Homo sapiens: one gene and its partners. The protein of the gene in region 1 interacts with the protein of each later gene in a biochemical or structural test. Each region holds a gene or a part of one and is shown on either strand. Other genes may lie near its edges.

Region 1 (7,024 bases):
TTACTGTGTGCCAAGCACTGAGTCAAGCACCCTCAGCACATTTGGATACAAAACTATTTTTGTCTCTATTTTTCAGAGGGCAGAATGAGGTCTAGAGGGTGAAATCTCTTGCCTGGGTTCTCTCAGCTGAGAAGGGGCAGAGCTGGGACCTGAATCCCATTTGTGTGATTGCAAATCCATCCCTTCACCTGTAAGGTGGCCCGTCCCCATTTGTCTGGACCCTCATTGGGGTGCCTGGGGTCATGGGGGAGCTACTCTGCAGTCCAGAGATAGGAACCTGAGTTGGCCGGGTGCAGTGGCCCACACCTGTAATCCCAACACTCTGGGAGGCCAAGGCAGGTGGATCGGTCGAGCCCGTGAGTTTGAGACCAGCCTGGGCAACATGGTGAAACTCTGTCTCTAGAAAAAATACAAAAATTAGCCGAACGTGGTAGCACGCACCTGTAGTGCCAGCTACTTGAGAGGCTGAGGTGGGAGGATCGCTTAAGCCCAGGAGTGAGAGGTTGCAGTGAACTGCGATTGTGCCACTGCAGTCCAGAGCAAGAGATCCTGTCTCAAAACAAACAAAGAGCCTGAACTGCAGACAGGCCTGGGCTTAAACTGCATCCGCATGTTTAAGACAGGCCTGCTATTCCCCGCTGGAGGAGCTCAGGGAAGCCACCTGGCCTCTCTGGGCTTCCATTTCCTCCTGTGTCAAAGGGACTCTCATCCCACTTTGCAGGGATGACCCAAGGCACGTGGATGGGGCTCTGAAGCACAGCTCTTCTGCCTCAGCCCGTGTCAGCTCCCCTTGTCCCCAGGCCCATTCCAGGGCATGTTTTCTTCCAGCTTATCCCCCAGACATCCTCAGAGAGCCCCTCCATGCCAGGTGGGTGGGTGGAAGGTATTGGGGGCAAAGCTAGACTTGCATTTGGGCAAATAATGATATGTTTTCAGCAATGAAATATTTATGAGCATTGACTGAGTGCCAGGAGCTGTCAACTTTTTTTACTTTCCTGATTTAATGCTTAAAAACTAGGGCTGGAGCCCAGCTGCCCAGGTTCAAATCCCAGCTTCCAATAAGTTCCATTATTCCTTTGGCCTCAGTTTCCTCATCTGGACAATGGGGATAAGGTAATGCCTGCCTTGCTGGGAGGTTGTGGACAGTCTTCAGCACAACCTTGAGTGTTTAGTTTAAAACCAGCATCTATTGCCTGTTGTTCACTTTTTTTTTTATTTATTATTTTTAGAGACAGGGTCTCAGTCTGTTGCTCAGGCTGGAATGCAGTGGTGTGATCATAGCTCACAGCAGCCTCGAACTCCTGGGCTCAAGAGATCCTCCTACTTCAGCCTCCCAAGTAGTTGGGACACACCCAGCTTATTAAAAAAAAAGGTTTTTTTCAGACAGGGGTCTCACTATGTTGCCCAGGTTGGTCTGGAATTCCAGAGCTCAAGTAACCCTCCTGCCTTGGCCTCCCAAAGTGCTCAGATTACAGGTGTGAGGGCTGATGTTCATTTTGATGGTGTCACAGCTTCCCCACTGCCGGGGGTGGGCAGGGGCAGGAATGCTGAGCCCCATTTTACAGCTGAGGAAATCGAGACTCAGAGAGGAAGCAATTTACCCAGGGATGCCCAGCTGGCTCATGGCAGAGCTGGAGCTGGAAGCCAGATCTGAGTGACACTGGTGTCCTTGGGTCCACGAAAAGCCCAGTGGCCAGCTTAGCTTCTTGCGTGGAAAGCTACGCTAGGCTCACCCACCTTGGCGTCTGAGCCACCTTAGCTTACCTCCCAGCTCCGCCAGTTGCTGCTCTGTGACCTCAGAAAGTGGCTTAAGCTCTCTGTTCCTGGGCTTTGCTGAGGTCAGAGCTCTGCCAACTTGAGGAGGGATTTGGGTTATTCTGGCTGCTGCTCTTGTTCTGGCCTGGGCTCCTTCAACCTCGGGTGCCCTTGCAGCCCATGAGCTGGCACCCCAGTGGCCGGACAGGAATGAGGAAGGGACAGGGCCTCACTTTCAATGTGACTCTGACTTCCTTCCCACCCCTAGCCCCTTCCTGAGCATTGGTTTCCCCTTTCTGCCCCGAGCCCTGGCCACTGCCGGCTGTGTGACCCCAAGGAGGTTACATCACTTCTCTGAGCATGTTTCCTCATCGGTGAGGGAGGATCACACGAGACCACACCAGGCGCACAGGAAGCCCTTGCCGGTCTCCAGATGAGGTCAGGGCATTGGAAAGGCCACAGAAGGAGGCGGGGGCTCAGGGGACAGACAGGCGGGCCATTGACCAAACGGGAATATCCTTCTATTTCTTTGGTTAGTGAGTAACAGCAGCCCCTCTTGTCCACCCACCCTGCCCCTTGCACAAAGAGCTCCTCAGTCTCACCAGGCGCCCGTTTTCCCCTGAGGGTGGAGTGGCCTGGGTTCCACCCGGTTGACCGAGTGGGCTGGCCACCTTCTGGGACCATTCCCTGTGTGTGTGTTTGTGTACGTGTGTATGTGTGTGTATATTGATGTGCGTGTGTATGTGCGTATGTGTGTCTGTGTGTGTATGTGTATGTGTGTATATGTATGTCTATATGTGTATGTGTATATGTGTATATATGTGTATGTGTGTATATGTATGACTATATGTTTATGTGTATGTTTGTGTATATATGTGTGTATGTGTGTATATGTATGTCTGTGTGTATGTGTGTGCATATGTGTATGTATATACATGTGTATGTGTGTATGTGAATGTCTATGTGTGCATGTGTGTATGTGTGTGTATGTTTGCGTGTATATGTATGTATGTGTGTATATTGTGTGTATGTATGTGTATATGTGTGTAATGTGTATATGTATTTGTGTGTAGTGTGTGTGTGTGTGTGTGTTTATGGAGGGTGGGTTCCATGGGCTTTGGGCTGAGACCCCAGCAGGTGAGGGTGGGACAGGGGGCATGGGGTTGACTGACCCATGGGTCTGGCTCACTCCTGTCCCTGCTTGGCACACAGGAGGGGCTCAGGAATACCTGTAGATAGAGTGAAGGGATGAATGAAGGAAGGAATGAGTGACTGGACAAGCCAGCCAGGCAGGGCATCAGAAGGAAGCACCTGCTCAGATACAGGCTCTGGCTCTGAGACCAAGTGTGCTTGAGTGAGTGTCCTGGTCTTGTTGAGCCTCAATTTCTTCATCTATAAAATGGGCTCACGATAGTTGTCCTCATGAGAGGTGTTGGTCTTATAGGCCAGAAAACCCCACACATAGCAGGTGCTCCGTAAGCTGTCTGTTAAAAAATGGATGGGAGGAAGCTAATTAGTTAGCTGGGCAGAGGTTCGCTTTGGAGACCTGTCTGCCCTGGAGAGAATGACTAAGCCCGTCTTTCACTCCTTTCCTCTGTTCATTCATTCATTCATTCATTCATCCAGCAAATACATCTTGAGCAGCTGCTATGTGCCAGGACCTGTTCCAGGCATCTGGGCCTCAGCAGTTACCAGAAGGGAGTCCCTCCGCCCTAGAGCTTTTGTCCGAGTGACATCATTCCACACGCAGTGCTTTGAGGCCACTTTGTGAGACTCTGATACCCACAATGACAAGTAATCCAGCAGTGGGAACTGTGATGAGCTCCCTTTTACAGGTGAGGAAACTGAAGCTCGGAGAGGTCAAGTGATCCGTCTGGGGCCACGCAGTTACTAAATGGCAAAGTCAAGATTCAGACTCCAAGCCTGTCACCACTGTGCCATCTTGTCCTGCTGAGTTCCAAGGGATATGGCGTTGAGAAGGGGGGTCCTAGGGAGAGGGCATGGTAGCCCCCAAAGGGATGAATGAACTCAAATGGATTTAAAAGCAGATGGTTGGAAGTCTAGCCACATTCACTTCCTGTAGCGTTGTGGACTCAGTTAAATCTCATTCTTTCTGATCTTCAGTTTGTTCATCTGTGAAATGATAACAATAACACCGACCTCAAATGAGAGAGAAATGTGAAAGTGCTTAGCATATGATAGGTATTGGATAAATGTCAGCCCTTACCTCCTTTCCCCCGGGACTGACTTTATACATCTGGGAATGGAGACAATAATATTTAATGTCTATAGTTATTATTTGGATTAAAATAGATAGAAGGGGCCAGCCATGGTGGTTCACGCCTGTAATCACAACACTTTGGGAGGCCAAGGTGTGTGGATCACGTGAGCCCGGGCATTGGAGACTAACCTGGGCAGTAGAGTGAGACTCCATCTCTACAAAAAATAAATTTTAAAAGTAGGAATGGTGGTACATGCCTGTGGTCCCAGCTTCTGGGGAGGCTGAGGTGGGAGGATTGCTTGAGCCTGGGAGGTCGAGGCTGCAGTGAGCTATGATTGTGCCACTGCACTCCAGCCTGGGTGACAAAGCCATACCCTGTCTCAAAACAAAAAACAACCAAATGGGAGGTGCTGTGTGAAGTGTGCCATGGAGGGTAGGCATTACTGATGGTACATTGCAGGCATTAGCCTCAGTCATAATTCCAAGCAGTTAACCCCTGAGGCAGCAGCTTACTGTTGGCACAGACTGGTGTTGAGGTGGGCTGGGACAGAGGAAGGATCTCAAACTGGTTTTCTGCTGCCTTGGGCTCCCTTCCCCGACTCCTGCCCCATCCACTCATAACGGGCACCTGCCCTCTTCCCCCTCCTCTGATTTGGCAAACTCGGGACTTTTGCTCCTAGAAGTGGGGTAGAGGAACGTATGCATGGACGAGTGTCCTGTCCCTTCTGGTCCTTAGTCTCCCAGCTGGGAGGCAGCCCTTGTCCTGACAGCCTTCTAAAGGTGACAGAAGATGGAAATGAGGTGGCGAGGAAACCCTTTCCAAAGGTGAGGTCTCTGCAGTCACGAGCCCTGGTTTTGGAGCCGGGAAGTCTGGGTTCCAGTGCCTGCCCAGTTCTGACCTCCCTGGACCTCAATGTCATCATCCCCCACCTCCCACTGCAAACTGAGGGAATGTTAGCAAGAATGGCAAAGCAGCCATTGAACATCCTTATCTGTAAAATGGGGGTAATAATTGCTACGACCTGGGTGGGGTTAAGCTGTATTTGCTCCATAGTTATTTGGTATACAGTACATTCATGCTTTAAACTAAAAAATAAGTTCAAGTTCATTGAACACTTGGTGTTTGTTGGGCACTGCACTGAAGGCTTGAATTATCACATTTAATCCTCACAATAGCTCTTTGGGGTAGGAGCTGTTATTTTATTTTTTAATATTTTAAAAAATAAATAAATTTATTTATTTTTTGTAGAGATGGGATCTCACCATTTTGCCCAGGCTGGTCTCGAACTCCTGGGCTCAAGCGATCCTCCCACCTTGGCCTCCCAAAGTGTTGGGATTACAGGTGTGAGCCACTGCACCCAGCCTTATTTTTTAGTTTAAAGCATGAATGTGCTATACACCAAATAACTATGGAGCAAATACGGCTTAACCCCACCCAGGTCGTAGTAATTATTACTCCCATTTTACAGATAAGGAAACCAAGGCCCAGAGATGAGATGTGACTTGTGCAAGACCATACAGCCAGTGAGTGGCAGATGAGATGTAAAGCATTGATCAGGCAACGTTCTCAGACTATAGAATCCTCTCTGGAGTTCTCCGTGGCTGTGACCATCCTCTAGGAGAGGGGCTAGGCCAGAGAGAAGGCGGGCCTAAGGTTTTGTTTTGTTGAGATGGAGTCTCGCTCTTGTCGCCCCCGCTGGAGTGCAGTGGTGCTATCTCTGCTCACTGCAATCTCTGCCTCCTGGGTTCAAGAGATTCTCATGCCTCAGCCTCCCGAGTAGCTGGGATTACAGGTGCATGCTACCACACCCGGCTAATTTTTGTATTTTTGGTAGAGATGGGGTTTCACCATGTTGGCCAGTCTGGTCTTGAACTTCTGACCTCAAGTGATCCGCCCACCTCGGTCTCCCAAAGTGCTGGGATTACAGGCGTGAGCCACTGCGCCCGGCCGGACTAAGAATTTGATGCCTCCCTCCTCCTGGGCTGGAGCTGAGTAGCATGTTCTCAAGCAGGGCTGGCTGAGAGGGTGGAATCCTGGGGCTATGCTCTGATGGGAAGGAAGCGAGATAAGGGAAGAAGGACCTGGAGCCTCCTGGGGTAGTGACTTTGTATCCTTGAGCTCCTACTACGTGCCAGACCTTGTTTGAAACCCTTTATGTGGCTGGGCACGGTGGCCGACGCCTGTAATCCCAGCATTTTGAGAGGCCGAGGCGGTCGGATCACCTGAGGTCAGGAGTTCGAGACCAGCCTGGCCAACATGGTGAAACCCCGTCTCTACTAAAAATACAAAAATTAGCTGGCGCAGCGGTGGGCACCTGTAATCCCAGCTACTTGGGAGGCTGAGGCAGGAGGATTGCTTGAACCTGGGAGACGGAGGTTGCAGTGAGCCAAGATTGTGCCACTTATACTCTAGCCTGGGTGACAGAGCAAGATCCTGTCTCTCTCTGTCACACACACATGCGCACACACACACACACACACAAGAAAGAAAAAAAAGAAACCCTTTATGTGTGCTTAATCTCCATGACATTCCCATGTTGCAACAAGGAAACTGAGGTTCTGGGAGGGAAGTGACCTGCCTGAGGTCACTAAGCCTGGAAGGGTCATTTAGATGTAATTCACATACTCATAACTCAGTCTTTTAAAACGTACAATTCAGTTGGTTTCTTAGTGTATTCAGAGTTGTACAGACATCAGCACTATCTCATTCCAGAACATTTTCATCACCCCAAAAAAGGACTCTGTACCCATTAGCAGTCACCACTCCCCACTCCCAGCCCCTGGCAACAACTAATCTGCTTTCTGTCTCTGTGGATTTGCCTGTTCTGGGCATTTCATATAAATGGAATCCTGCAATATGTGGCCTTTTGTGTCTACAAGGTGCATGCTCTTAACCATTAAGCCACACCGCTTCTTGGTGGCTCCTACCCAGGGGCCGGGACCCTTGGAAATGACTTGGTCCCTGTGAAAGCTCAGAGGGGCATCTGTGTGTGCTGTCAGCCGGCCTCCCTCCAGCCAAGGGCTTGCAGAATGACCAAATGACTGCCG
Region 2 (7,024 bases), on another chromosome or scaffold:
AGGGAAGACGGCTCAGCGGAAAAACCCGGTTCATGCTGACCCGTGGCTTATCAGTGCTGGGGGACCTACAGAGTGAGTCCTCTAGGCGGCACTCCCTGCCTATGCAGGAGACCCCTGGCACCATCCAGGACTCCTAGCAATGGGAGGACATTCAGCTGGGCAGAGGCTGGGTTAGATCAGGACCCACCCCAGGCTGTCTAGGCTGGGTCAGGACGCCACTCTCTGTGCACTTGCTCTCCCCCAGCTCCTGCACAGGCAGAGCACCCAACTGCTGGCACAGAGACTCAGCCGGACCTGCTTCCGCCAGTGGAGACAACAGGTGGGAACCCAGGAGATGTCCCCTCTGCACTTCCTTCTCCATCCTCTGGCCTGTGAGGCCTGGGCAGTGAATGACCTTCAGCCTACACCTCTAGTTCAGTATTTTTACTATCACCCTCCCCAGGGCCACCTCCTCTACCACCTTCCTGTCATTTCCAGGCACATCAGCTTCCTTCCGTCTGCAGTCTGCATAAGAACAGTTACTTCAAGGCCAGTTTCTCTCTCTACAGTGTTGTATTAAAAAATACATCAGTGGAGGCCGGGCGCAGTGGCTCACGCCTGTAATCCCAGCACTTTGGGAGGCCGAGGCAGGCGGATCATGAGGTCAGGAGATCGAGACCATCCTGGCTAACACGGTGAAACCCCGTCTCTACTAAAAATACAAAAAAAATCAGCCAGGCGTGGTGGTGGGCGCCTGTAGTCCCAGCTACTCGGGAGGCTGAGGCAGGAGAATGGCGTGAACCTGGGAGGCAGAGCTTGCAGTGAGCTGAGATAGCACCACTGCACTCCAGCCCGGGCAACAGAGCGAGACTCTGTCTAAAAAAAAAAAAAAAAAAAAATATATATATATATATATATATATATATAATCAGTGGGCCGGGCATGATGGCTCACGCCTATAATCCCAGGATTTTGGGAGGCCGAGGCAGGAGGATCACTTGAGCCCAGAAGTTCAAGACCAGCCTGGGCAACATAGTGAGACCCCATCTCTACAAAAACAAAACAGAAAAATTAGCTGGGTGTAGGCAGTGCACACCTGTGGTCCCAACTACTCGGGAGGCTGAGGCGGGAGGATTGCTTGAGCCCGGGAGGTCAAGGTTGCAGTGAGCTGTGATCATGCCACTGCACTTCAGCCTGGATGAGAGTGAGATTCCATCTCAAAAAGAAAAATCAGCATAATATCTTAAAAATTAACATGAAATGTGTTTTAAGGCTTTGCTGGGATCTTGCTTTTTAAAAAGCCAAGAGGGATCACACAGAGCAGCATCCACACGTCCCCAGCTCCCTCTTCCCGTTCTGTTGTCCTGTTTTCACCATTCCCCGGACCTCAGGCCGCTGCCTCCACGCATCCCCCTGCAGGAGCCCTTTGCCACCTTCTTTCATGAAGGTCATTCCTCAGGCCACAGATGGAGCGTGTGTTGAGCATCTCACCGCCAGGCACAAGGCTGGCCCTTCCTAGTGGAGGAAGTGGGAGCCTCGACTAGAGAGGGAGCCAAGAGGGACGAGCTGGGCAGGGCCCCGTGATCACCACGGCCTCCTTGAAGGGGCTATAGGGAAATGATCTGGTCTTTCTGGCCCTAGCTGGCAGCCAGGAGGCAGGAGCAGCGGGCGACAGTGCGGGCCCTGTGGTTCTGGGCCTTCTCGCTGCAGGCAAAGGTAATTGGGGCTCTGCATCCTACCATCCCTGCCTCTCCCTCAGGCCTTAGCCCTGCCTTGGGTGGAGGGAGGGCACCTGGTCTGTGGGGGAGCTCTAAGCAGGGAGACCTGGGCCTCACCTCCTGCCCTCCCTGGAGGTGTGGGCCACGTGGCTGGCCTTTGTACTGGAAAGGAGGAGAAAGAAGGCGCGGCTGCAGTGGGCGCTCCAGGCCTACCAGGGGCAGCTCCTCCAGGAGGGTGCCACGCGGCTCCTGCGCTTTGCAGCCAGCATGAAGGCCTCCCGGCAGCAGCTGCAGGCCCAGCAGCAGGTCCAGGTAGGCCCAGGGCCCCTTCCTGTGGGGAGCAGGCAGGGTGTGGCATGAGCTGACCAGAGGCTGTGTTGTAGGCGGCTCACAGTCTCCATCGTGCCGTCCGCCGCTGTGCCACGCTCTGGAAACAGAAAGTGCTGGGCCGGGGCGGGAAGCCTCAGCCCCTGGCAGCCATCGCACCCAGCAGGAAAGTGACGTTTGAGGGTCCCCTTCTCAACCGCATTGCTGCTGGGGCTGGGGATGGCACCCTTGAGACCAAGAGGCCACAGGCTTCTCGGCCTCTGGGAGCTCTGGGCCGCCTGGCTGCTGAGGAGCCCCACGCCCTGGAGCTGTGAGTAGCCTGTGCTCACCTTGTCCTCGCTTCCACCCTGGGCAAAAGGTTGGATGGCATAGCAGGGAGGAAAACAGCCCTGACGGGATGGGACGGGCTGGTCACGGCCTTGTCACAGCTGAGCTGCTGGGAACCCCCTCTTCTCCAGCCAGATCCCATCCCTCCCACGGCAAGAGGGAGAGAATGGAGTGGGATTTCCAAACCCTCTCTCCTTTGCCTGCCAAAGCTCAGGAAATAGGTGTCCCCTCCTCTGCAACACCTTCCTACCCTCTCTCCCGTCCTGCTGACACGATCTTTTCCGGAGTCATACACGTAGTTGACAAAGGGAACAAGCTCAGCTCCTACCCGTGCCTGCCGGCCTCTCTTCTGCTCCATCACAGCCAAGACACTGGCTTTTTGTCAGAAGCCCCTCTTTCTTGTGTGAGCTGGCACCTGTCCCTCTGCCCACCCCTACTATGGTCTCCTCAAACCCTAACCTGCCCTGCCCCATGCTGATGAAGCTGGTGGCTCCCACAGCAACCAGCACTACCCGAGAGCCTTGGGCCTCGGGGGAGATGTCAGGTGGGTGCATGGGGCCTGGGTCCCGGTCCCTGCTGTGCTCCTCACTGTTTGACTGACCTTGATGGGATCCTGAACGTCTCAGAGGCTGCTCCCCTGTGACATGGACCCTGGCGACCTGTACACCAGCGTCACCAGGGTTGTTCTGCAGGTCAAAAGAGACAATGTGGGTGAAGCAGTCCCCTGGCGTCAGGTACCTTTTGTCGGAACTGCTGGGAGCTCTATGGCCCAGGCCCACCCCAGCTTACTTGCTGACCTTGGCCTCGCCTTTCCTGACTTTCAGTCTCCCTATAAAATTGGAGATCCCACAGAGATCTCAGACCCCCCTGCAGCCCCTGGTCAGCCCAGGGGAACAGACCCCATGTTTCTTTCCAGCAACACTGCCCACTCAGCGAGGAAGCAGCCGCGACGCCCACACTTCCTGTTGGAGCCTGCGCAGAGCCAGAGGTCCCTGGGGTGCAGCACCGTGGGCAGGCAGGGGGAGATGGTCAGGGGTCCCCAAAGGCAGCGGGCACCTCCATGTGGGGCCTGTGTTTTGGCAGCCCTGGGGTGGGTGGCCCCCTTTCCTTCTTGTTCTTTGGTCCCAGAGGAGGGTCCTGTGGCCTGACCAGGCTCTTGCCTTCCCTGTGCTCAGGCCTCAGAAGCCACAGGAACATGGCCTAGGCATGGCTCAGCCAGCAGCCCCCTCCCTGACGCGGCCCTTCCTGGCAGAGGCCCCGACAGCACTGGTCCCACACAGCCCCCTGCCTGGGGCCCTGTCAAGCGCCCCTGGCCCGAAGCAGCCCCCGACGGCAAGCACAGGCCCGGAGCTGCTGCTGCTGCCTCTTTCCTCCTTCATGCCCTGCGGGGCGGCTGCACCAGCCAGGGTACGTCCTCCACCACCAGGCCTGGGCACTGGGGCTCTCACTCTGGTCTGACTTCTGGTGCTTTCTCATGCCACAGCTGTACTAGTTTCTGGAAAACCTTGGCACAGGGAGGCCACTCATCCATTTGACAAGCATAGGTAGCCACTGCACACCAGGTCCAAGGGCCACAGCAGTGAACAGCCAGCCAAGGGCCCTGCCATCCTGAAGCTTATATTCTAGTCAGAGACAAGCAAAGAAAAACCCCTGCCTGCAGGCCAGTAAAGTGGCTGCAGATCACGTAGGGTCCTGCAGGCCACAGTGAGAAGTAGCCTGGGATTTGAGAAGAGTAGGAAGTCGGGGAAGGGTTTTGGCAGGGAGCACCATGTCAGGTTTCTGTGCAGGCTGTGGTCACCATGACCACGTGGTCCAGGCAAGTAGTACTGGTGGCCTGGGCTCAGCGGTTGCCACAGAGGGGACAGGTACTCTCTTGGAGGCAGATGAGGCAGGATATGCTGCTCTGAGGGAGTTGCTGAATGAGGGGAAAGAAGGAATCCAGGCTGATGTGGGCTGCTGGCTTGAATAACTTGGGAAACAGAGTTCTTTGACTGGAAGAAGGAACTGGGGGTGGGGACTGGTTTGGGGTGAAGTGTCAAGAGTGTTTTGAACCAGGCTCTTGATGTCAAATTTGAGAGAAAGCAAACGTTGAGTCTGACCTTCAAGGAAGAGGTCAGGGCCAGAGATTGAGAAGAATCTTCAGCACAGGCCGAAGGTAACCCCAGAGCCACTGCGGCCTCTAGGAGGAGAGTACAGGGGAAGGAGAGAGGGGAGGAGGCTCCAAGCAGGGAGCCTGGGTGGGGATGGCCAGGGGGTGTGAGAGCTCAGTAATGGAAGTGACAGCTGCTCTAAGGCCACCAAAGCAGCTGGTTCCTGAAAGGGGATGAGGGGACAGGAAGGAACCAGTTCCTGTGGTGAGTTAGGCCATGTGGGGCCACTTACCCTGGCTGGAATGGTTTGAATGTGGGTTTGAAAGGGTTTTGACCCCTGTCCGGTGATGGAAGGGGCAAGTCCACTCTCACCAGGAGAGGAGGGCATGGAAAAGGCTGTAGAGCAGTGGCCTCTCACTGACCACTTCTCACTGATGTCAAAGCTCAGCAAGGTCATGAGCTTAGAGCAGGTGGGGGTGGAGGGTTGGGTAAGGCAAGGCTAGGAACAGCTGCTCAGGCAGTGGAGGCGTGAGGCGGACTGTGGTGACACGGGGTGCTCCCTGGTTGCTTGCGGGACTTTCCCCTACAGTACCAGGCCCTGTGTGCAGGGGCAGGCTAGACACTGAGCTGGCACGGCCAGTGCCTGGGAAGCCCAGCTCCTGCAGCTGGGAGCCTGGTCTTCCCCCACCCCTGCAGGGCAGGCAGTGACAAGGACTTGGTGTCCCCCTCCCTGGCTTCCTCCTAGCTTCCTTGCTCAGCATCTACCCTTCTTTCCTTTGCAGGTGTCAGCACAGCGGGCTACTCCTAGGGATAAGCCCCCGGTCCCCTCATCCCTGGCCAGTGTCCCTGACCCCCATCTACTCCTTCCTGGGGACTTCTCAGCCACCAGGGCTGGGCCTGGACTTTCAACTGCAGGTGTGTACCTGGGGCCTGTCAGGGCAGAAAGCACTCAGGCCACTCCCGGACCTGGGACTTGCTATTTACCCTGGTCCCCGAGGGGAAAATAGTCTGAAACAAGCTTACTTCTGTCGCCATAGGCAGCCTGGACCTTGAGGCTGAACTTGAGGAGATCCAGCAGCAACTACTGCACTACCAGACCACCAAGCAGAACCTCTGGTGAGCCCTGCGAAACGCCCTGCAGCCCTGGCTACAGGAGCAGGTGTTGCCTGGAGAGGTGGGCAGGCAGTTCCATTTCCCCCGAGCCAGCTGCCAGGGTCCTGTAGGTGGTCTCGGTCTAGCCATGGAGGGGTGTGGGGAGCCCTCAGTGTGTGCTGTCCAGAAAGACCCCATCTCCACCATGGCTCTCTACCCGGCTCAGTGCTGCTTAGGAAGGCCCAAGTCGTCAGACTCACCTGTGCACAGAGGCTCTGCTTCCTATGGGGGGGACGATAAAGTTGAGCAAAACTCTAAAAACCCGATGAGGCCATGCTGTCCCCAGTGACTAATTATAACACTGATATTAAAGGTGCAGAGAAGGGCCAGGCGCAGTGACTCACACCTGTCATCCCAGCACTTTGAGAGGCTGTGATCCAGGCAGATCACGGGGTTAGGAGTTCAAGACCAGCCTGGCCAATATGGTGAAACCCCATCTCTACTAAAAATACAAAAATTAGCCGGGCATGGTGGTGCACGCATGTAGTCCCAACTACTTGGAAGGCTGAGGCAGAAGAATCGCTTCAACCTGGGAGGCGGAGGTTGCAGTGAGCTGAGATCACGCCATTGCACTCCAGCCTGGGCAACACAGCAACACTCCATCTCAAAAAAAAAAAAAAATGCAGAGGAGACAGGCCCGTGACTCAGCTGCACTCAGTGGTCTGGGGACCATTCAACATGCAGCAACCTCAGAGCTTCCAGGGCAACAGACTGGCGCCTCATCCTTGGCTCTGCACAGGGGGAGAGAGACAAGGAGTGTGTTCTTGCCCAGGCCCACCTGAGTTGCTGTCTGCTGGGGAGGGCGGAGGAGACTGGGAGAGGAAAAAGAACAAGTGTTTGGCTCCCAAGCAGGGGCCTGCAGTTCAGGTCAGGGGCCCTACCAGACCACCTCTCTCCACCCGATACCCGCATCAGAATTAGCTGAGGTGCCTCTCCCTGAGCCGGATGGGGCTCTGCCAAGGACCCAGCCTGGCAGGCAGTGGGTATCTCCACCCCTCAGGTCCTGTCGGCGGCAAGCGAGCAGCCTGCGCAGGTGGCTGGAGCTGAACAGAGAGGAGCCGGGGCCTGAGGACCAGGAAGTAGAGCAGCAGGTGCAGAAAGAGCTGGAACAGGTGAGGCCCCAGGCCATCCCCAGGTGTCCCTGGGGACGCCCCGGGCTGTGCTCCCTCTCAGCCCTGCCTGTCCCTCCATGGCCCCAGGTGGAAATGCAGATCCAGCTGCTGGCAGAGGAGCTCCAGGCTCAGCGCCAGCCCATTGGCGCCTGCGTTGCCCGCATCCAGGCCCTGCGGCAGGCCCTGTGCTAGCGTGTTCGCACCAGGAACGCAGGTGCTGGGCTGTCGGGGAGGCCTCAGGCCACCTCCAGGAACAGAACACAGTTTTAAGTTTGATTTTTTTTATTTCAAAATGCTTTGCAATTAAATGAATTACTGT
Region 3 (7,602 bases), on another chromosome or scaffold:
ATAGGCTCAGAATAAAGGGCTGGAGCAATATTTACCAAGCAAATGAAAAGAAAAAAAAAGCAGGGATTGCAATCCTAGTCTCTGATAAAACAGACTTTAAAACAACAAAGATAAAAAAGGACAAAGAAAAGCATCACATAATGGTAAAGGGATCAATGCAACAAAAAGAGCTAACTATCCTAAATAGATATGTGCCCAATACAAAGGACCCAGATTTATAAAGCAAGTTCTTAGAGACCTACAAAGAGACTTAGACTCCCACACAATAATAATGGGAGACTTTAACACCCCACTGTCAATATTAGACAGATCAATGAGACAGAAAATTAACAAGGATATCCAGGACTTGAACTCAGCTCTGGAACAAGAGGACCTAATAGACATCTACAGAACTCTCCACCCCAAATTGACAGAAGACACATTCTTCTCAGCACCACATCACATTTATTCTAAAACTGACCACATAATTAGAAGTAAAACACTCCTCAGCAAATGCAAAAGAATGGAAATCATAACAAACTGTCTCTCAGACCGCAGTACAATCAAATTAGAACTCAGGATTAAGAAACTCACTCAAAACCACAAAACTACATGGAAACTGAACAATCTGCCCTGAATGACTACTGGGTAAATAAAAAAATTAAGGCAGATATAAATAAGTTCTTTAAGGCCAATGAGAACAAAGACACAATGTACCAGAATCTCTGGGACACAGCCAAAGCAGTATGTAGTGGGAAACATAGCACTAAATGCTCACAAGGGAAAGCAAGAGAAATCTAAAATTCACATCTGACATCACACTTAAAAGAACTAGAGAAGCAAGAGCAAACAAATTCAAAAGCTAACAGAAGACAAGAAATAATTAAAATCAGAGCAGAACTGAAGGAGATAGAGACACTAAATACCCTTCAAAAATCAATGAATCCAAGAGCTGTTTTTTGCAAAGATCAACAAAATAGATAGCTAGTCAGACTAATGAAGAAAAGAGAAGAATCAAATAGACACAATAAAAAATGATAAAGGGGACATTGCCACTGATCCCACAGAAATACAATCTACCGTCAGAGAATACTACAAACACCTCTACACAAATACTAGAAAATCTAGAAGAAATGGATAAATTCCTGGACACATACACCCTCCCAAGATTAAACCAGAAGGAAATCAAATCCCTAAATAGACCAATAAAAAGTTCTGAATTTGAGGCAGTAATTAATAACCTACCAACCAAAAAAAGCCCAGGACTAGATGGATTCACAGCCGAATTCTACCAGAGATACAAAGAGGAGCTGGTGCCATTCCTTCTGAAACTATTCCAAACAATAAAAAAAGAGGGACTCCTCCCTAACTCATTTTATGAGGCCAGCATCATCCTGATACCAAAACCTGGCAGAGACACAACAAAAAAAGAAAATTTTAGGCCAATATCCCTGATGAACATTGATGTAAAAATCCTCAATAAAATACAGGCAAACTGAATCCAGCAGCATATCAAAAAGCTTATCCACCAGCCGGGCATGGTGGCTCGTGCCTGTAATCCCAGCACTTTGGGAGGCTGAGGTGGGTGGATCATGAGGTCAGGAGATCGAGACCATCCTGGCTAACACAGTGAAACTCTGTCTGTACTAAAAATACAGAAAAATTAGCTGGGCGTGGTAGTGGGCACCTGCAGTCCCAGCTACTCAGGAGGCTGAGGCAGGAGAATGGCATGAACCCAGGAGGCGGAACTTGCAGTGAGCCAAGATTGTTCCACTGCACTCTGGCCTGGGCGACAGAGCAAGACTCCACCTCAAAAAAAAAAAAAAAAAAAGCTTATCCACCACAATCAAGTTGGCTTCATCCCTGGTATGCAAGGTTGGTTCAACATATGCAAATCAATAAATGTAATTCATCACATAAACAGAACCAATGACAAAAACCACATGATTATCTCAATAGATGTAGAAAAGGCCTTTGATAAAATTCAACATCCCTTCATGTTAAAAACTCTTAATAAACTAGGTACTGATGGAACGTATCTCAAAATAATGAGAGCTATTTATGACAAACCCACAGCCATTATCATACTGAATGGGCAAAATCTGGAAGCATTCCCTTTGAAAACTAGCACAAGGATGCCCTCTCTCACCACTCCTATTCAACATAATATTGAAAGTTCTGACCAGGGCAATCAGGCAAGAGAAAGAAGTAAAGGGTATTCAGATAAGAAGAGAGGAAATCAAATAGTCTCTGTTTGCAGATGACATGATTGTATATTTAGAAAACTCCATTGTCTTAGCCCAAAATCTCCTTAAGCTGATAAGCAGCTTCAGCAGTCTCAGGATACAAAATCAATGTGCAAAAATCACAAGCATTCCTATACACCAAAAATAGACAAACAGAGAGCCAAGTCGTGAGTGAACTGCCATTCACAATTGCTACAAAGAGAATATAATACCTAGGAATACAACTTACAAGGGATGTGAAGGACCTCTTCAAGGAGAACTACAAACCACTGCTCAAGGAAATAAGAAAGTACACAAACAAATGGAAAACCATTCCATGCTCATAGATAGGAAGAATCAATATCATGAAAATGGCCATATTGCCCAAAGTAATTTATAGGTTCAATGCTATTTCCATCAAACTACTATTGACTTTCTTCACAGAATTAGAAAAAACTACTTTAAATTTCATACAGAACCAAAAACGAGCCCATATAGCCAAGACAATTGTAAGCCAAAAGAACAAAGCTGGAGGCAGCACGCTAACTGACTTCAAACTATACTACAAGGCTGCAGTAACCAAAACAGCATGGTACTGGTACCAAAACAGATATATAGACCAATGGAGCAGAACAGAGGCCTCAGAAATAACATCACACATCTACAACCATCTGATCTTTGACAAACCTAACAAAAACAAGCAATGGGGAAAGGATTCCCTATTTAATAAATGGTGTTGGGAAAACTGGCTAGCAATTATGCAGAAAACTGAAACTGGTTCCCTTCCTTATACCTTACACAAAAATTAACTCAAGATGGATTAAAGACTTAAATGTTAGACCTAAAACCACAAAAACCCCAGAAGAAAACCTAGGCAATACCATTCAGGACAAAGGCATGGGCAAAGACTTCAATACTAAAACATCAAAATCAATGGCAACAAAAGCCAAAATTGACAAATGGGACCTAATTAAACTAAAGAGCTTCTGCACAGCAAAAGAAACTATCATCAGAGTGAACAGGGAACCTACAGAATGGGAGAAAATTTTTGCAGTCTATCCATTTGACAAAAGGCTAATATCCAGAATCTACAAAGAACTCAAACAAATTTACAAGAAAAAAAAAAAAACCCCAACAAAAAGTGGGCAAAGGATATGAAGACACTTCTCAAAAGAAGACATTTATGCGGCCAAGAAACATATGAAAAAAGCTCATCATCACTGGTCATTAGAGAAATGCAAATCAAAACTACAATGAGATACCATCTCATGCCAGTTAGAATGGCAATCATTAAAAAATCAGGAAACAACAGATGCTGGAGAGGATGTAGAGAAATGGGAATGTTTTCACACTGTTGGTGGGAGTGTAAACTAGTTCAACCATTGTGGAATACAGTGTGGCGATTCCTCAAGGATCTAGAACTAGAAATACCATTTGACCCAGCAATCCCATTACTGGTTATATACCCAAAGGATTATAAATCATGCTGCTATAAAGACACATGCACACTTATGTTTATTGCAGCACTGTTCACAATAGCAAAGACTTGGAACCAACCCAAATGCCCATCAATGATACACTGGATAAAGAAAATGTGGCATATATATACCATGGAATACCATGCAGCCATAAAAAAGGATGAGTTCATGTCCTTTGCAGGGACATGGATGAAGCTGGAAACCATCATTCTCAGCAAACTAACACAAGAACAGAAAGCCAAACAACGCATGTTCTCACTCATAGGTGGGAACTGAACAATGAGAACACATGGACACAGGTAGGGGAACATCATACACTGGGGTATGTCACGGGGTGGGGGGCAAGGGGAGGGATAGCATTAGGAGAAATATCTAATGTAGATGACAAGTTAATAGGTGCAGCACACCAACATGGCATATGTATACATATGTAACAAACCTGCACATTGTGCACATGTACCCTAGAACTTAAAGTATAATTTTAAAAAATCAGTTTTCTTTTGGCTTTTTCTTAGCTTTATACTTAAATATTTTTTTCTAATGTAATTAGAGTGGAATTGTTTTTTGAATTTTATTTTTGGATTACTCATAGCTAGTATATACAATTGCAATTGAATTTTATATTTTGATTTTGTATCTTTTCACCTTGCTGAACTCATTTATTTGTTCTAGTAGATTTTAGGAAATTCCTTACAGACTTTTACATATAAGTTTATGAAAGATGCAATAAAGGACTTTATCTTCTTTTCCAAAAAAAAAAAAAATTTGTGCACTTAGCTCAGAAAAAAGTAAACAAAAAATTAACACAGTTACAAATTAGGATTTTTAGTGCAGGGGAAGAAGTTGTCACCACGCCTCTAAGAGGAAGGGGAAGTCTCAGAAGTATTTTCAGTTTATGACAGAAGGGCAAAAACATTGACTGCCTCAAGGTCTCAAGCACCAGTCTTCACCGCGGAAAGCATGTTGTGGCTGTTCCAATCGCTCCTGTTTGTCTTCTGCTTTGGCCCAGGTAAATGTCAATCCAGATCGGTGTAGTCACTGAGTGACTCCCTGGTTTTGTGCAGCTTGCTCAACCTAAATCGTCTGTATACAGTTGTCTGGCTCTCTGCCAAGGGATTGGGGCGGGAAAGGGGACGCTGGCAGTGTTACCTGATATACTACTACCTCCTCTCAACTTTGGATGCGATAAGCCTGAGATGGTTGTCGGTGAACAATTTCAATTGTGTCTGCATGTAAGAAAGTTATTTGCTGGGGCAGAGGAAATAAGCTTTTGAAGACAAGACTGTTTGTGGTTTATGACCAGCATCTTGTGTTATAAAGAGTACCAAGACCAAGAAAATGGGCCCTCATACCAATGTATCTACTATCGTACTGTGAACCTCAGGGAGGTTACTTATCCTTCCTGAACCTCACTATCCTCATCTAAATTATTAAAAACCTATTATTCAGTTGAGCCAAATTTTCTGGGCCCAACCAAACACACCAAAAATAACCCTCTCACCTTTTGCTCATTGCAAAAAAAAAGGTTTCCATCTCTCCCCTCCTTTAGTGCAAATTAGGGCTAGCTAGTCCAGCAATGCATTATATATGGCAGTGAGAAAAGAATGAACTGATCCAGCTGGCTTCTTGTTTCCTGCTGTCCATTATATGGAGAAGATGAAGATTCATATCACATTTGGGGAACTACAAGTGGTCCACGGGAGACAAAGTGTAGCATTCAGGCAGAGATAGTCCAGGAGACCAATGGAAATCTAGTCCAGAGCTAGCCCAGGGTAGCAGATAAAAGTAGGAAGCATTCACTGAGCACTTATTGTATTTCAAGTATTGTGCCAGGTGCTGTACACACGTTATGAGTCTCATGAGAATTCTATGAATTTATACTATTAATATCTCCATTTTAAAATGAAGAACTGAGGTGAACTTAATTTAAATAATTTGCCCAAATTTCATTAGCCAGCATGCGACAAGCTCTTGTAATAGTTATGAGAAAAAATAACAGTTCAACAAGTGTGGCAGCAGCATAAGAGAAAGAAGAGACTGAAGCAAGAGATCCCATCAATATGGAGTTAAGTAGAGTAATTGGTAATTGGAATGAGAAAGGAATAAATATTCATTGAGCACCTACTGAATGCTTGGCACTCTTCTAGTTTGCATGAATACATCATGAACAAAGCAAGCAAAAATTCCTGCCCTCATGGAGTTAACATTTTAGCAGGAGACAAACTGTAAAAAAAGATAAACAAGTAAAATAGTGTATTGGGTAGGAAGAAATAAATCAAGAAGGAAAGGGAGAGATGAAATATGGTAAAGACGGCAGTGAAATTTCAGACAGGATAGCCAAAGAAAGTGACAAAATTGGAAGGTGGAGAGCAGCCACAGGAGGAAGGTGAGTTCAATTTTGGACCTACTGATTTTAGGATGTCAGTGTGCTATACATGAGGAAGTTACGTGGAGGATCCTGGGAACTTAGGACTAGGGGTAGAGCTGAGGCTAGAGACTTAAAAATCAATGGCATAGAGATATGTTAAGCTGAGGAGAAAACTGGAATGAGAACAGAACTTTGGGAAATATATATAAAATGCAGAAAGAGAGAGAATTCTTTCCTTCATTCAAGAGCCACTTCCTGATCTAGGAGCAGAATCTTGAGTTTTTGCTTCATTTTTACCACCCTGCAAAATTATTTCCACCTCTAGAATAAAATATTCTGAATGTCCTTGTGTTAAAACTCCTCTTCTTCTCCCTATTTCCATGAATACTTCTTATAATGACCCTATGAAATATACAGTGCTCCAATCTCCACTTCACAGATGGGGAAAGAAGGCACAGAACACTAAAGTAACTTGCTCACTGCCCCACATTTATGGGGGAAATGGGTATAGAAAGAGAAACACATTTGAATGAGTTTACAGGAGGCAGATGCAGGTGTTCTGAGACCCAGGAGGAGAGAAGTGGCTGCTAGAATTGGAAATCAGGAAGCTTGGCTCCGGAGTCTGTGCTCATAGCCACTTCACTATGCTACTTAGCTTACACACAGTCATACATTCACACAAATGTGTACATAATTAGAAAATGTGAGGCCAGCAAAAAAAATAAGCAGGGCACCTTCATAGAGAAAAACACGGGGACCTGCTTTGGACGGAGTGATGAAGAAAGGACTTCCTGGAAAAGTAACATCTCATCTGATATTTAAAGGGTGTGAAAAGTTAAACAGGAAAAGTCAAATGAAGAAGATTTTAGGGCAGAGGGAATCATGTGTGAAAAGCCGTGATGCAGGAAAGAGCCTGGAGTGATTTAGGAAGGGAAAGAAGACCACTGTTGCAAAAATGTGGGGCAAATGAAATTAATCTTTGAAACAACCATGAAAAACAATGACTCATGCCAGCCTACATTCTTTGAAGTGGGTTGGGCACTATCCTGACTCCTTTTAGAAAATTTAGTGGAAAAGACAAACCATATTGAAAAATAATCCCATTTCCTTTAACTCAAGCCCTGGGTGGCAAAACTAACAGAACAAAACAATAATTGTAAATAAAATCAAGCATCATGACTTCCTAGAGAAAATAAATCTCGTTTGTTTCTTCATTTTGATTTTTATAGATGGAAAGTTGGAAATTTGTCAAACTTAAATGTGCATATAAATTACTTGGGGGAATCTTATTAAAATGCTGATTGGGGAATAGGGACTGAGATTCTGCATTTCTAAGAGGCTCCCAGGTGACACCAATGCTGCCTGTCCATGGACCACACTAAGCAGCAAGGTTCTAAATTCCAATGGACTTCAGTCATACTGGGATTGTAGGGAGGAAGAAATAGAAACTAACTTTGAGTGTGTTTGCAGGAAGCAGATATAGGTATTCTGAGGTCCAGGAGAGAGCAGTGGTTGGAAATGTAAGTAAAGCAAACACATGAGGGCTGATTCT
Region 4 (7,024 bases), on another chromosome or scaffold:
AGCCAGAGTCCTCTCTGTGTCTTCCACCAGAACCTTCCTGCTCCCAGGAAAGGCCTGGCCTGGCTTAATCAAATCTAATAAAAAAAATCAAAATAACAACCAGTAGGCAACCTGCTAGGCTGATCCAACTGGACATGCTGGTGGCTGAGCAGGTCCTGGAGGCCCTGTCTTGCCAGGTGTTAACTCCTTGTATGCTGGGTCCCAGTGGAGGAACCGGGGCCAGGAGAAAAGCTAGGGCAGGCGGTGGGGGCCCTGACAGAGCTCTGGCAGCCTGATTTACCAACTGGCCCAGAAGCATCTCAGTGTTTGACACGGGCATACTGGTGTGCATAGGCTGATATCAGCTGTTGGTCTGGCAGAGTCCATGCCCAAAAAACATTTGTGGACCTGAGCTGAGGGCCAGAATGGATGTGCTTGGTTTCTGACCCATGACATAGTAGCATACAGGGCATGTGGCTTTGCCAGCTGTGTTCCTATGGGCAAGGAACCATGGAGATCTGAGGTCAGAGGTCATCAATCCAGAGGTTCCCCACTGACAGCAATGAGAGACTGTGAGCTATTTCTATTATTTCAAAAATATGAAAGAACACTGTCTTACCTATTTTAAGAATCAGAAAAAAATCGATTGCTACTAAATGGTTAATTACTAGCCCTGATAAACTAGCTTCTGCCCTTCTTGCAGGAATCTAGCTTTGCAGTAATTGCACTGTACTGTTACCCTTTAGTTGTCTGCTTGGCCAAATGGACCAGAATCTTTATGAAAGTGGAAGCTGAGACTGGTCACAATTGTATTCCCAGAACCTAATTCAGCGTTGGGCACAGAGAGACTCTCAATACATATGTGCTGGATGTTTAAAAAGAAGAGTTGATGGCTACTTCAGAGTAAGTACAATTTAATTTGATCAGAAATATCTTTTGAGACTTATAAAATAAAATTGGTCATTGGGACCTGCTGATGAAACCATCATTTTTATTTTTTTAAATTTTTATTTATTTATTTATTTATTTTGTGATGGAGCCTCGCTCTGTCGCCCAAGCTGGAGTATAGTGGTGCAATCTCGGCTCACTACAACCTCCGCCTCCTGGGCTCAAGTGCTTCTCCTGCTTCAGCCTCCCGAGTAGCTGGGATTACAGGCATGCACCACCAAGCCCAGGTAATTTTTATACTTTTAGTAGAGACGGGGTTTCACCATGTTGGCCAGGCTGGTCTCGAACTTCTGACCTCAAGTGATCCACCCGTCTTGACCTCCCAAAGTGCTGGAATTGCAGGTGTGAGCCACTGCGCCCAACCAAAACCATTGATTTTAGAGATGGAAAAACTGAGGAACAGGGAAGGGCAGGCTCTTGTTCTAATATGATGTGCCGAGTGAAGATTTAGGGGTCACGTGACTGCACTGGACTTGCAGGTCCACCTCTCACTTGCTGTGTGACTGGACAAAACAAGTTGCCTGACCTCTCCGAACCCTAGATTTTTTAAGTGCAAAGTGGGGAGAACTGCACATCTGAGACCAGAAGTGGGTGTGAGGATTGGCCAGGATGACGTGTAGGTGGTGCCAGGTGATGGCTGTTCCCTCTACACCCCTCATGGCTCCTGGTCCAATGCCTTCCACTGTACCACATAGAGCTCTTTGTTAGTGGGATACAACCAGTCCTGAGGCCACATATTTCAACCCTTCTGTTTCAAGGCCCCCAGCCACAATGCAACAGAACAGAAAGGTACATACATACGCCACGGGGTCATTACTCCGTGTCCCCACGATGCTGAACTTCTTCACATATGAGTTTTCTTTCAGGGCTTCTGCATATGCCTTGAGGGTGGGGATGGGGATATTCTGCACAAAGAAAGGCAACAGAGAGAGTGACCAGAAGCCTCCTCTGGGACAGGCTGAGGCAGGTGGATTAGCCTGGCTACTCTCTGATTCCTGGCAAGTCTCTGGCCAAAAAGCTGAATGGGCAAAAGGTTTAGGCTTTGTCCCGGACGACTGAAATCTGGGGAGAACTTTCTGGTAAACAGATTTAGAAAATCCTCCCTGAAAATTTCAGATAAGACCTGTAACCTCTTTCTTTGTGCACTTGGGGGCCAGAGAAGAGGCAAAAATTAAGGCGTGTAGTATTGTGCAAAGAGCTAGGACTAGGGGTGTGAGAGGGGCTGGAACCTGGCCTTGGTCCCAATGATCGGCAATGTTCCTGACTTGCTAGGTGTCTCTGTGGAAGCCTCCTGCCCTCTCTGGCCCTGTTTCTGGAAAACAGGTAAGGGGGTTGCATATGATACTCTTTAAGAGACATCTACCCCAGGGGGTCTCTGCTCCAGCGGCACATCAGAGACTCCTGGGGAACTTTTACAAAATGGTGATGCTTGGGCCGGCCCAGAACAATAGAATCAGAATCTCTAGGGTCAGGCCTGGGCGTTGGTATATATTTTTTAATCTTCTCAGGTGAAAACCACTGATCTGGTCCAACAGGCTCACAGTGCAGAGGAGAAACTGAGGCCCAGAGGAGGCTGGGGCCTCACAGGGAGATTCCATCCCTCATGTGGCCCTGAGGCAGCATTCACTGCCAGTGGGCAGCATTCTGAATTGTGCCAATGTCTCCTACTGGGCACATGAAAGAAAACATGGCTGTGTTTTTACCAATCTCTCAGAGCGTCACTTTAGCTCCCATGGGAGCAGAGCATGGGGAGGCCAGGTGGGGGTGAACACTAGGGTGCAGGTTTCCAATCTGATGGTGCCGTGGGGCTGGCAGCTGCTTAAAATAAAGTGGAGAAGGAAAGAAAGTGGAGCAGGGGCATGGGGGGCTGGCTTCTAGTCTTACCCCCACCCCCCTCCCAGAACTAATCCACTGGTCTCTGGGCTCAGCAGGTGGGTAGAAAGCTGCATTTGTCTCTGAATTCTTCCTGCGGCGGCCTGTTCAGGGTGAGACTGCCTGTCCACCTGTCCCTCCCCTGCCCCGGGATCACATAAGGAAATGTGCACAGAGAAAAGGGCAGACAGCTTGGGATATCGCTTTGGACATTTTGGCCAACAGCTCCCTTCTGTGGCTGTAAAACAAGGCTGAATATGAACGTGATATAGCAGCAGCGATGGCACAGGGGAGGGGCCTGCCCAGGGCCTGTGTTACCCCCGAGCCTAGTGGGCACCGGACTTTTCCAGCCTTGAGATCCCATGCAGCAGCGTGTGTCTGACTCATGATTTTATCTCGGAGAATCTCTCAGTGTTTTGAATAACGTGGCAGGTTTCCAGATCAAAGCTGGGTTGGCCCGTGCTAAACATCTGGGCCTGATATCATCCTCAGAAAGAAACCAGGACTGCCAGATGCACTTGTTTACACTGCCCACCCCTCTTAAAGGCTCCCATTTGCAAAGGTTTTGTCCCTATTCCCAATGCAGAAACACCCAGAATCCAAACAGGACCCTGTTTACTCTGCACAACCAACCCTGGACCGTTTGCATTTGGGTGACATGGTTCCCCCTCCCCCAGCCACACACAGGTAAAGTGAAATAAATGGACCTTACCCGGATATTATTGAGGTTAACTTCTTCAAGTTTTGGGTCGTTGTTCTTTATCCGTTCCAGCGTTTCCTCTACGTCTGTTGAATTTGGTTCTTCGTCGGGCACAGGCTTGTATTGTGTGGGTTTAATCACGCCTAGAGTGACCGATGAAAGGGAGGTGGCTCACAGAAACAAGGGGCTCACTTTCTGCCAACACAAAGATACTGTGGAAGGGAGCATGTGCAGGGTTGGGGCACGTGAGGGCTGCACATCACAGGGGCTGGGTGGGGGTAGGGGGCACCACTCAGAAGAAGCCCCGCAAGGGAGCCAGGAGGCTGGGGTTCTACTTGGACTCTGCCTTTGACGTCCTGCAAGAACTGGGTGAATTACTTAAACTCTCTGAACCTTGGGTCTACATCTGTAAGGCAGGGCTAGTCATTTTCCCGGGGCTCATGACCTCAGTGGACTCTTGGGAGGCTAAGATGAAGCCCGGATGGGAAAGAAATGCATCAATCTTCCAGAGGGAGGAATAATTATTTTTTTTGGCAGCCTCATTTCTGTTTGGGGCCAAAATGCCAGCTTTGGAACAATGCAGTGGAGTAATTAAGGCAATGCAATATTGGCACAGGAAAGGACAAAAGGGCTCATGAAACAGAGGAGGCACCTAGAAACAGATCCATGTGGATGATAAAGGCAGGCCCCAAACTAGTGGGGAAAGGATAAATCTTGCAAGGAATGGTGTTGGGACCACTGGATATTAATTCGAAAAAATGAAAGTTTGGTCTCATCCCACAGCACACACAAACATGAACTCCAGGTAGATTAAGAAGTTGAATATAAGGCCAGGTGTGGTGGCTCATGCCTGTAATCCCAGCACTTTGGGAGGCTGAGGCAGGAGGATTGCTTGAGTCCAGGAGTTCGAGACCAGTCTGGGCAATGGTGTGACCTCATCTCCATACAAAATAAACAAAATTAGCCAGGCATGCTGGCATACACCTGTAGCCTCAGCTACTCAGGAGGCAGAGGTGGGAGGATCGCTTAAGCCCAGGAGGTCCAGGCTGCAGTGTGTCAAGATTGTGCCAATGCACTCCAGCCTGGCTGACAGAGCAAGACCCTGTCTAAAAAAAGAAAAAGTTGAATATAAAAAGTAAATCTCTAAAACTTTTAGAAGAAAATATAGGAGAACATTTCTATAATACTGGGATAGAGAAGGCCTTTGTAAACAAGACACAAATCCCAGGAGACTCAAAGGAAAGGATGAACAGATTTGGCTATATAACATGTTAAAACTTCTGCAATGAGCCAGAGAACATCAGTGAGTGGAGGAAGCAAGAAGCATGAGGTCCCTCCTGGGGGCGGGCGCATACTCACTGTTGAGCCCCTCCTTGTTCATGATGGAGCTGCTGCTCAGGGCCTGGTAGTACTGCTGGTTACTCATGAGCGTGTGCATGCCCAGGATCGCTGCAGGGACAAGGGAAGGGCTCATGATGTGCCTCTGCAGACAGAAGAGCCTCCTAGGGACCCACACTCCAAACCCCGGGAACTCTGGCTCACAGAAATGGCAAGAAACACTTGCATGAAAACTTCAAAATTTTATTTTACTTTTACTCTCACCTCTATTGATGTGACTCTGAAATCCCCAGCCCCAGCCCAGGCTGCTCTGCCCCTGGCCTCTGATTCCCTGATGTCCTGCTGGCACATCCAGCTCAACGTGGCCAAACCAGAATGGCTCTTTCCAGTGACAGCCTCTTTCTTTGGAAGGCTCTCTTTCCATCTTGTCATCCTGCCTGTCCCTCAGGGTAAAACATCAGGGAATGTGGCACCTTCTCCCCATAAGCCCATTTGACCATCCCAGTGTCTCTGAGATCTGTCCCCCTCCCATCCCATCATCTCCATCCTAATGGAGGCCTGATCATTCTTTGGCTGTATTGTCACAGCTGTGTCATCACGGGTGTCTTGGTCTTGGCCTCTTCCTTCCCTCTACCTCCCAGCATGCAGCACAAAGCAGCTGGAAAGCTCTTTCTGGAAATGCCAACCTGATCTTATTGCTCCCGTGCTCAGCCATTCTTTCATCCATTCATTTGTTCAACATGTAATGAGGCCCACCCCAGCACTGTGTGCTAGGCTCTGGTGGGGACAGTGGAGAATAAGAAAGACTGGGTCTCCGCTCATGGAGCTGAAAGTGTGCTGGGGGAGAGAGGAGCCAAGCAAGTTCCCACACAATGAAAAACCAGCACAGGGTATGCTGAGTGTGGTAGAGGAAAAAGTTCAGTCCTAAGACAGCATAAAAGAGGAACTTGGGATGCAAAGGAGGAGTAAGTGTTGGTCAAGTTAAGAGAAGGGCTATAGAACATTACAGGCAGAGGAATGCAGGTGGGAAAGCCTCGAGGTTCAGAGAGTGGCAGGCCAGTGAGGGAGGAAGGTCAGGTTGGCATTTCAGGAAAGACCTTTCCAGCTGCTCTGTGCTGCATGTTGGGAGGTGGAGAGTAGGAAGAGGCCAAGGCCAGGACACCAGTGATGACACAGCTGTGACAATCACTGCTGGGGGAAACAGGATAGAAGCTGGATGTGTGGCGGTAATAATCAGACGCATGGCAACACCACCCCTCTCACTGAGCACATGCTCTGGGCCAGGGAAGACACTTTGTATCCATCATTCCCAATTTGGCTGCACACTGGAATCACCTGGGGATCTGTTGAAATTCCTGATGCCCAGTCCCACCCTAGACCAATTAACCCAAAATATCTGGGGGTGGAGCTCAGGCACCTGCATTTTTAAAGCTCCCTGGATGGTTTCAATGAGCAGCCAAGGTTGAGAACCATTGCCTGACACTCCCCTCCTTGATCTGCCCAATAACCCTCTGGAGTAGATTTTATTCACCTAGGCAAGGTCAGATTCTACAGGGTCTTCTAGGCTGAGTAAGGAGTTCGGGTGTCTTTTCCTAGGAACAGCCTGGGAAGCCATTAGAGGCTTGAGCAGGAAGTGAGATGGTCTGACCTGAGTTCTGATTATTGTGTTGAGAACTCACTACAGAGGGGAGAGATGGATGTGGCTGCAGAGCTGTGAGGCTGTTGCAGCTGTCCAGATGGGAGGACAGTGGCTTGTACAGCCAAATCCAAACCCAGAGCCTGGCTTCACAGGCCTTCCCTGGGCTGGCCCCACCTCACCAGTGTTGTTGCACTCCCCCTCCCAACAGCTTCTCTGCTCCAGCTACACAAACAGCCCCTGCTCATAGCTGCTCCTGCTTTTGCTAGTACTCTCCCTTCTGCTGGTGATTCTCTGCACCCACTTGACTTGGAATTTTAGATAAACAACAAATTTTTTTTTTTGAGATGGAGTCTCGCTCTGTTGCCCAGGCTGGAGTGCAGTGGCGAGATCTCGGCTCACAGTAAACTCCACCTCCCAGATTTAAGGAATTCTCTGCCTCAGCCTCCCGAGTAGCTGGGATTACAGGAGTGTCATCCTGTAATTTTTGTATTTTTTATATATACAATATATAAATACTTTATATATATATATATACAATACAAAAAATA

The links.
Region 2: the proteins of TRPV4 (region 1) and SFI1 interact in a test that uses a peptide from one of them, tested with the Homo sapiens proteins (one study listed by BioGRID).
Region 3: the proteins of TRPV4 (region 1) and SLAMF6 interact in a test that uses a peptide from one of them, tested with the Homo sapiens proteins (one study listed by BioGRID).
Region 4: the proteins of TRPV4 (region 1) and TMOD1 interact in a test that uses a peptide from one of them, tested with the Homo sapiens proteins (one study listed by BioGRID).

Annotation. Positions count from the first base shown.
Region 1 is NC_000012.12:109,823,376-109,830,399, reverse strand, and holds part of TRPV4 (transient receptor potential cation channel subfamily V member 4), read left to right. Parts: intron 1-2,797; exon of another isoform or gene 2,798-3,590; intron 3,591-7,024. UniProt on the Homo sapiens protein: Non-selective calcium permeant cation channel involved in osmotic sensitivity and mechanosensitivity. Activation by exposure to hypotonicity within the physiological range exhibits an outward rectification.
Region 2 is NC_000022.11:31,611,522-31,618,545, forward strand, and holds part of SFI1 (protein SFI1 homolog), read left to right. Parts: intron 1-244; coding exon 245-319; intron 320-1,620; coding exon 1,621-1,695; intron 1,696-1,832; coding exon 1,833-2,009; intron 2,010-2,080; coding exon 2,081-2,334; intron 2,335-3,267; coding exon 3,268-3,339; intron 3,340-3,526; coding exon 3,527-3,758; intron 3,759-5,223; coding exon 5,224-5,356; intron 5,357-5,478; coding exon 5,479-5,557; intron 5,558-6,593; coding exon 6,594-6,705; intron 6,706-6,792; coding exon 6,793-6,897; 3' UTR 6,898-7,024. UniProt on the Homo sapiens protein: Plays a role in the dynamic structure of centrosome-associated contractile fibers via its interaction with CETN2.
Region 3 is NC_000001.11:160,520,233-160,527,834, reverse strand, and holds the start of SLAMF6 (SLAM family member 6 isoform 1 precursor), read left to right. Parts: upstream 1-4,579; 5' UTR 4,580-4,642; coding exon 4,643-4,691; intron 4,692-7,602. UniProt on the Homo sapiens protein: Self-ligand receptor of the signaling lymphocytic activation molecule (SLAM) family.
Region 4 is NC_000009.12:97,560,656-97,567,679, reverse strand, and holds part of TMOD1 (tropomodulin-1), read right to left. Parts: intron 4,949-7,024; coding exon 4,859-4,948; intron 3,643-4,858; coding exon 3,512-3,642; intron 1,833-3,511; coding exon 1,725-1,832; intron 1-1,724. UniProt on the Homo sapiens protein: Blocks the elongation and depolymerization of the actin filaments at the pointed end. The Tmod/TM complex contributes to the formation of the short actin protofilament, which in turn defines the geometry of the membrane skeleton.